Linked DNA regions of Homo sapiens: region 2 is linked to region 1. The links come from fine-mapping of genetic effects on gene expression. A gene starts in region 1. The other region holds a variant in brackets. All regions are shown on one strand. Distances are between the middles of the regions. Region 1 holds the start of GRB10 (growth factor receptor bound protein 10). Region 2 overlaps GRB10 (growth factor receptor bound protein 10).

Evidence for each region. PIP is the estimated chance that this variant, and not a neighbour inherited with it, causes the effect. A credible set is the group of variants that fine-mapping cannot tell apart.
Region 2: its variant is the best candidate, but not a certain one, in a credible set for the expression of GRB10 in whole blood (TOPMed, PIP 0.50).

Annotation. Positions count from the first base shown.
Region 1 is chr7:50,781,062-50,785,444 of GRCh38, reverse strand. GRB10 (growth factor receptor bound protein 10) reads left to right here and starts at 2,549. Exons shown (of 19, transcript NM_001350814.2): 1 at 2,549-3,021.
Region 2 is chr7:50,722,710-50,727,092 of GRCh38, reverse strand. All of the region lies in intron 4 of GRB10 (growth factor receptor bound protein 10), which reads left to right. Among named protein-coding and RNA genes, the nearest start is that of GRB10, 58 kb to the left of the region's middle. RefSeq lists an enhancer at 585-754. The variant G/A (reference allele first, on the strand shown) is at 2,405.

The sequences.
Region 1 (4,383 bases):
GCCCTGGTAGGAGGAGGCTGTGCTGCAGGACATAGGGGTCCCATCAGATGCGGCTCAATAGAGCTGTGGACAGGGCCCAGGGAGGTGAGGCATAGGAAGTGTTTGTCCCATGCAATTTGGCCACATCTTTCACCTTAGAGGCTTCGCTTAGCTGTCTGGGGTCTTCCCACTTTCAAAAGGACATTGCTCAGAAGCTGACAGGAGCCCTGTGTGAGTGAGCATTTAACTGTGGCCTCTGTGGATGGACGCCTGGTTGCTTGTTGTGGGGCTCATGCTTTTGGGTCTCTTCTCAGCTCTGCAGGAGCCTCTTTCAGTTCTGTTGGAGGTGCTGCTCCAGGAGCTGCTGGGGATGGTGGTGGGATTCATATGGCAGCTAGCATGTGATCCACCAAATCTTTCTGGGACTAAAGGCATGGCTGTGTCTGCTGATCCTGGTCCAGAGACCTGTGTCCCTGCTTCCAGAAAAGAAGTCACCTAGCTGATGGAGCTGGGGAGAGGACCCGGGATGAAATGGGGCCCAGCTATTCCTGACACTTCCGATTAATCTTCTTGTTTTGGACTCTACGTTTCCCATTTCCAGAGGTGAATGGTAGTTCTCATTCCTGAGACTTTCTGGGCTTCCACTGAGTATATCATCAGGCTTCATCTCCACTTTCCAGCTTAGCCTTCATCTCTTTTGCCTTTGCTGTCAGTTACTTCTTGACCACTGGCTTTTATGCCTTTTCAAAGATTCTGTTCTTGTTCTAGTAAAGCAAAATGTGTGTCCTGTCAGCCATTCAGTGAAGGTCTGGCTTTTCAAGATTCCTTGTCCATCATTAGATCATTTCTCTCTTGCTCTTCCCACATCCAGGAACAGCTGCTTCGAACTGGGACCTCTGGCATTTTGTAATAGAGGGGAGTGTGGCAGGGAAGCCCTCTGTCCTGCACAACCTGTTGTTCTAGCCCAGGAGATGGCAGGGTGCGTGGGATGTTCAGGCAAAGGAGTTCACCATCCAGGCTGGGAGCTGCTGGGCAGGGAGGCAGAGGAACACTCGAGCCACCTTTGTGGGGTTGACTGCAGAGGTGGAAGAAGCCACTGTGTCAGACCGCAGAAAAGTCTCATATCTGGAGTCTGGAAGGAAAGCCAAGTTCTCCCAGTCAGTAACCTGCTCTGGACTTTGGATAAGTTACATAATTTCTCCACACTTTGGTTTCTCCCCGAATCTCAGGGTTTGATTCTGTGCTTCCATTTCCCATTCTGTGCCTTGCGATGTTCACTATGTGACATCTTCTCTGAGGGGTGCGCAGTTAGAGTCAAAAGCGCTAACACCTTCAATGTTTCTTGCAGTAGCCAGGCCATATGTGGTCAGCCCGGACTGTGAGAAAAGAAAGCCTTGTGTTACCCTTTGTGTTGTGTTGAAAACTGCTCTTGGCTGCTTTCAGAACCAGCCTTAACTCTGCTTTTGTTTGATCGACTTAAACATATTGGAATTTTGTGGTCATGACCACCGTGGAACCTCTCCTTTTGGAGTGCATATCTGCACTTTTTCCAGCCTCCTCCTCCAGTGACCTTCAGGGGCCTGACCTGGCCTCCGAGCAGTTGGACTAGGGTAGCTTTTCCACTCTTTGAACCCCAGACTGAGATGGGGTTTTCCCAGCGCCCTGCCCCTTAACGTGTGTGAATGCAGTATAGGATCTCAGTTTCAGAATCCATTGTCCACTGTTGACTGTTAGGTTCTTACTGCTGTCTACAATGTCTAGCTTTTCCTACCATGTTCTCTGCTAGAGGGGAGTAGAAAATCTGCTTACTGCTTACTGTGGCCTTGTAAACGGCAGTGAATATCTCCAAACGTTCTGTTTTGCTTCCATCATTGCAGGCTCGTGTGTATGTCTGTGGTGTATGTGTGTGCGGGGGTGGGGGAGTATGTGTGATGTGTGTGTGTGGTGTATGTGTGTGTGTGGTGTGTATGTATGTGTGTGGTGTGTATGTATGTGAGTGGGTGGGTGGGATGTGTGTGGTGTGTGTGTGAGGTGTGTGTGGGGTGTGTGTGTGTGTGAAGTGACTAGCACATAGCAGATGCTTGGTATGTATAGGATCTGTTCTTTCCCTCGCTGACTCTCAGTTTAAATGGGACCCTACTTTGTCCTCGTTGTTCAGTAACGTTATGCCTGTGGCTTCCAGAAAGAGCCTCTCCCTTCCTGGTTCTTGCTCTGACATTTTGGGGAGAAGGGTGAGACGAGAGTGATCCTGGAAGAGTAGAACTGGCCGGCCCTGCAGGTGGAAGGTTGCTCGAGCAGGCGGCATCTCTAGCTTGCCGCGGCCGCGATGTCCCCCGCCTGTCTGCGAATGCGGCGTAGCGGGTAGACATGGAGGGCTTTCGGCATCGTCAGAGTGGCCAGTGTGCGCGTCCTTGCCCATCAGGCGGGGGGGCTGTGGGGGAGGAGAGGAGGCAGTGGAGGGAACAAGGGGTTCTTCAGGGTTGCCATGAGAACCAGGGATCCGGGGATTGGGCAGCAGAGGGCCCCCGCCGGGCGTTGGGGCGTGGCCGCGTCACATGGGTTTGGTCCTGGGATTCCTGTTGTGCTCCAGGACCGGGCGCTGCTCCGTCGTCCTCCCGCTCCTCAGGAGCGCCCAGTCCCTCGGAGGCTGAGTATTGCAGCCGGGCGGCAGCCGGCTCCGCGGAGGGGCCCCCGGGCACCTGCGTGGTGATGGCGCTGGGAGCCCCCGGGCACGCTCGGGCGGTGGCGCGGCATCCCACCCTCGCCCGGATGGCGTCCCCAGAGGCGGCGTTGGCCCGCTTTTCGTGCTAGCGCGTTCGCCTGGCGCGCGGTGGCCCCGAGGCCCCGGGTCGGTTTTCTGCGCCGCAGGCCCCTGGCCGGGGCGGAGCCGTGGAGGACCAGCCCGGCCCGGCTCCGAGCGCTGTCCATGCGGAGCGCTGTCCACGCGCCGGGCACTGCGGGGGCCGGGCCCCGAAGCCCTACCCGGGCCGGCGGCGCACACGCAGCGACCCCGTGCGGCCAGTGCTGCCGCCCGCTCTCCAGGTACTCAGGTGGGCTCCGCCGCGGGCGCTGGGCGGTGGGCGGTGGGCGGTGGGCGCGAGCCGGGGCGGCGGGCGGATCGGCCTGCGCAGGCTGCAGAGGCCCCGGCCGCGGCGGACAGGGCCCGGGAGGGAGGCGGGGAGGTCTTGCCGCGCGGCCCCCTGCCCGCCTGCCGCGGGCTCGCTGCAGTCCGAGATCCCGAGCTTCGTTGCCGCCAGCCATAGGACAGTATTATGTAACCATTTTTAATCTTAATTGTTTAATATTATGTAACGAGTAATAACTGTACCCACGGAAACCCGTGACGACGATTCGAGCGAACCTCGCCCGCTCCTTCCTCGCCAGGTGGTGGGCAGCGGGTGTGGGAACCGGTTTGGGAAATGAGTGGATCTGGGCATCCGGGCTACTGCACCGGCTTTTTCTGTGAAAAACATAATGCTAGAGCCTGCCTGGAATTCTCTTAAACCTGGATGGCATATAGTCCGGTATAAAAAAGCTTTGAGTAAACACGTATAGTCAACGTTGCCTCTTTCTCCATGAAAACCTCTTTCTCCCTGGAAGGTGCATATCAGACAATGTGAATTGAGCAGTGAAGATGTGGGCATGGGGTTCGTGTTCTTGATGGAGTTCAAAAAATTGTGCATATGAACACGTAGGACGTCCTAGCCCTTGCTCTTTAGAAAAACAATCGGATCACCTGTTCCACACGCCAGTCGCCTCCTTGGTCGGCTGCCATTTGTCTGTTGATGGTACAGTCCCTGCCAGGGTGCTGGGGGGACCTCGTCTGCGGAGCCGGCACACAGGTGGCTATGGGCGGGGGAGACTGCAGTCTAAACCCGCAAAGCTCTCCTTCCTAGCCCAGTGAGGGGAAGCGTGGGTGTCTTTCCTCATTGTTCTTTTTAAGTCTGAAAGGCAGCGACTGCAGGGATTATGACGTGCTGGCGGCCAGGGCCTCGGGTGCTGCCTGGAGTCTCCTGCGTGTCTCTGCTCCTTTGATGTCAGCATCGGGGGTGGGAGCAGGGCCCACGCATTCCCCCTTTGGCCTGGGTGGGAACAGGGGAGGTGGTGGGCAGGGCCAGAAGGGCTTACTGGGATTTTCTTTCTCTCTGTCACTCCAGAGAAAGGTGGTAAAGAACACTTGTTTCAGTTTGAGGTGCTCGGCAGCCACGCGCTGAAGGACGGTTTTTAATTGTAGGGTGGGGTGTGAGTGCAGTGTGGTTCAGTCCCCTCCCCATCTTGTGCTACCTGCCGTTGTACCTGGACCTGTGAATCAGGGATAATAGTTACTATCTTGTAGGACTGAGAATGGTGCATACTAACTGCTGAGGAACATGGTGAATGGAGTTATGGTAATTGCACGATTGG
Region 2 (4,383 bases), 58 kb after region 1:
ATGATACCCATTTTATAAATGAGAAAACTGAGGTTTTTACTATATGCTGGTCATCATGCTGAGGACTTTACTTGGATTTTCTCTCCTGCCAATGCTACGCGGTGGGGACCTTCATGTTCTCCCCTTTGCAGATGAGATTATCAAAGCAGAAAAAGACCATCTCTCCTACTGAGTAACAGAGGTACATTCGTCTCTGTGAAGTGTGTTTATGTTTAATGTTGGTGAGACTGAGGAGAACAAGTTTTTGTCCAAATGCCAAAATCTCCTCCTCAGAATTATTATAATAAAACATAGAATTTGTATCCTGCAATTTTGGACTTATTGAATTTCTTTGATCATGAAATGCCATAAGTCAGTTTTAACAACAGCTTTTCAGTTGAAATAAAGATTATTATGTATTGTCCCTAAATGTGTCATGTGTGCTGATCGTAAGGTGTTTGCATTTTTAAAATGTTAAAATGGGGAGTGGGGCATGTCTTAAAATCAATGAAATATGACAGATAAGTAAATAAATGGAAATAAAAATACATAAATATGTATATATTTATTCTCAGTGCTTTTCTTTTTAATGCCTAAATCTTCTCAAACATCATCATCCTCAAGTATGGGCTTAAAGTCTGATTTTTTTTGAATAATATAAACAACTATATTTATCACATATTTTCTATGTATTATTTTTGTTTTTTGTTTTTTTTGAGACAGAGTCTCACTCTGTCACCTAGGCTGGAATGCAGTGGCCCAATCTCAGCTCACTGCAACCCCCACCTCCCGGGTTCAAGCGATTGTCCTGCCTCAGCCTCCCGAGTACCTGGAATTATAGGCATGCACCATCACACCTGGCTAATTTTTGTATTTTTAGCAGAGATGGGGTTTCGCCATGTTGGCCAGGCTGGTCTTGAACTTCTGGTCTCAAGTAGTCTGCCCATCTCTGCCTCCCAAAGGTCTGGGATTATAGATAGGGGTGAGCCACTGCACCCAGCCTGTGTTATTTTTATCCTCTCTCTGGTACTGTGGCAAATATTCTGGATGTGTTATTTTTTCTATTTCTTTTTTCCAGGAAACCAGGGCTTGCAGATATTGGTAAGTTGCCCAAGGTCACACAGCTTGTAATGGGATAGATCAGGGATCAGGCGTACGGGGTCAAGCCTGAAGCCTATGTCCTTAACCATTCCACTGTCTGGTTTTTCCTTGGCACCGTGTGCTTGGCTGTGCAGATATCTATTTGATTGGGGGTGCTAGAGTTGATTATCTTTTTCATAAGATTTCATAAGCAGTGGAGGAGCAGAACACAATATTGGTCTATGACTTTGCACTGCCTTTTAGAAGGACATATCTAATCAGGGATACCTATATCCCACTTCTGTTTTCCTCCTACTTATCATGGGGGTTAAATCCCCACAGAAATATTTGTGTTCTTTTAATTTTCCATCCCATGAAAGTTCAATGTTAGTAATCAACTTTCCCTTTGCCATCTATCTGCCCAGAAGCTACTGTGAAATCACTTATCAAAGTCTTTGTTTTTGTTTTACTTATGAGACCAGATGGTTGCCTTTTCTGTTGTAAAGTGTCAAAGTTTCTACTAGACCTACAAAAACCAAAACTTACCTGCTGTGTGTGTGTCACTGTATTCGTCCACACTCACACCGCTTATAAAGAACTGCCTGGGACTGGGTAATTTATAAAGAAATGAGGTTTAATTGACTCATAGTTCCGCAGCCTGTACAGGAAGCATGGCTGGAAGGCCTCAGGAAACTTAAAATCATGGCAGAAGCAAAGGGGAAGCTGGCAAGTCTTACGTGGCTGGAGCAGGAGGAAAAGAGCACAAAAGGGGAGGTGCTACACACTTTCCAACAACCAGGTCTCGTGGCAACTTACTGTCATGAGAATAGCAAGGGGGACATCTGCCCCTGTGATCCCGTCACCTACCACCAGGCTCCTCCTCCAACCTTGGGGATGGACATGAGATTTTGGGCGGGGATACAAATGCAAACCATATCAGTCGCCATTACAGCAGGTAGGGCAGGCAGCAGGCAGGTAACCAGCAGAGCAGGCAGCAGGCACAGCTACCTTGCCGGGAGTGTTTTTCCAGGAGAGATGGCAGTATCAAGCGCACGCAGACTTGGAAAGGCATCATGGCGTACCTGGTTGGAGCATGAATCCTTGATTCAACTGTTTTCTTTGCACAGAGTCATATTACTTGATTACCAAAGGGAAGGGAACTCATGACCCTCAGGGACAGGCTGTTTATCTGTGGTCAGAAGATGGGCCTCCTGTAACATTGACTGTGCTCCCTTCTGGCCTTGTCAGTAACGCAGAGCAAATCACTTCCGTCTCTCTGCGTTTGAAGTTATGTGTCATTACCCAGCCAGCCCCCAGCTCCTTCAGGCATCCTTCCTTTGTCGGG[G/A]TTTGTGGCACTTTTTCCTGTTTCCTTTCTCCTGTCTTGCCTAGCCCTCTTCAAGGGGAAGGACCAGAACTAATCAACACTTCAGATGAGACTGACCAGCTCAGAGCTGGGCGGCTCACGCTCTCCCTTCAGGACCCATCCTCCCATCCCTCATTGTAGCACAATGTTGACTTTTTTGAAGGAAGGTCTCTTCATGCACCCACTGCTGTGTCCCAGGTCGTGTTTATTTCCAGTTCATGATAAGTAGAGACATTGAGAAAATGTGTTTAGAGATTTTATAGCAATTTGAATGTTGAACTTAAGAATAAAAATGTGGGTGTGTATCGTATTTTTGTTTTATTTTACTTTCTGGCAATTCATTGCTATGTGAGTTGTGAAGTATCCGTGCTTGACAGGTTGACAGGGACAGCAAAAACTGCTTCTTCCCCGCAGGTGGCTCCTGAAGCACTAGTCTTGGCTATCTCAGGATATCACAGTCATGCCTGTGGTTTTTCTGTCCTTGGCAGCTCCAGTTTGCAAAGTTGAAGCTTTGCGTTTATGACCCATTGTGGCCTTGGTGTGTCATTTGTGCATGGTGAGATTTCCTCAGGCGCTGCTGGAACGTGCGAGTCCACTGCCTCCAGCCAGTGGCGGATCATGGGGGACAGCATCTGTGCCCTCCCACTGTGTTGTCCACTCTTCCCTATAGGCCTGATGTGACTCCGCTGTGCTTTTGCTAACCGTCCTTAACCAGCTCCTTGCCACTGCACTAGGGCGTGAAGGTTGGAGGGTGCCTGTGGGTCCCTCTGTAGCTCTCAGTGTGACCTACCTCCCACCTTCCTATGTCTGTTTGCCTTGAGCAGCTGTTCTAGTCTTTTCTCCATCAAGAGTCTACACCGTTTTGGAGGGTCATGTGGCCAGCGGGAGGTGAGCCAGCCCAGGAGGCATGCAGGCCCCAGGTTTGAATCCCAGTACCGCTTCAGGCGTGTGAGGCTGACAGTTATACCTGCACTGTTATGAAATGAGAGCCTCCAGGGACCACCCAACTAGTGGGGCCTTAGGAAATCCCAGTTGACCAGGGGCACTTCGCTGGAACCCTGAACAGGGCCTTTGCTCCTGGGATCCAAGGGGCTGGATCGCTAAAAACCCTTCATCGTCTTCCTTTGCCCCCAGACTCTGGTTTAGCAGGCTCTGGGGTACTGGCTGAGGGGTTCATCCTTCATTTCCAGACCTCAGCTGAAACCCAGCTAATTTGTAAGATGGGACCAAACAACATTAGAACATTTCGTTCTTTGGACAATGAGGAAATGATTGGCAGTTTCTTTGTGGTTGCCCATTCTGGGAATACAGAAGTGTGTAAGACATAGCCGGGGCTTAAAGGATGTACCCAAGTAATAGAGGAAGGAGAATTGTACCTGTTGTTTAATGACTCTAAATAAGGAAACACCTGACCCCTCTGTCTGTGGACACAGAGTTGGAATTTGAGTCCTTCACTGCCAAGGACATCATTGCTTCACTGCAACTTTTCTCTTTTTTTAAAGAAAAAAAAGCTACTTGGTATTGTGAAAAAATAGCTATAAGGTTATATTTTGCTTTACTTGTCCCTTCAGAACTTCACTAAAAGAAAAGTAAATTTTATATAAATGTATTTTATTTTTCGACATTGTGAAGGTGTTAATTCCAATTAAATTGGTCTTTGAGGTCAGGTTCTTGGCATTTGCAGGGTACTTATATGGATTTTTCAGCTTTCTAAGGCGTAAATGTGGCCTTTGTAGCTTGTGCAGTATGAGGGGTGAGTGCCAGGGCATCTAGAGAAACAACTTAATCCTGAGAGCGCTATCTTTACCTAAGGTGGGTGAAATGGGATTAAAAATAACCCTACCCAAGGAGGACATTGAGGGCAGCTTCTGAGGAGAGGCTTTATGGAGAACAAGCTGTGTGTTTGGAGGCCAGGTATAAGTAATGTCGGGGAAGGAGAGGGGGCGGTACCCTGTCACCCC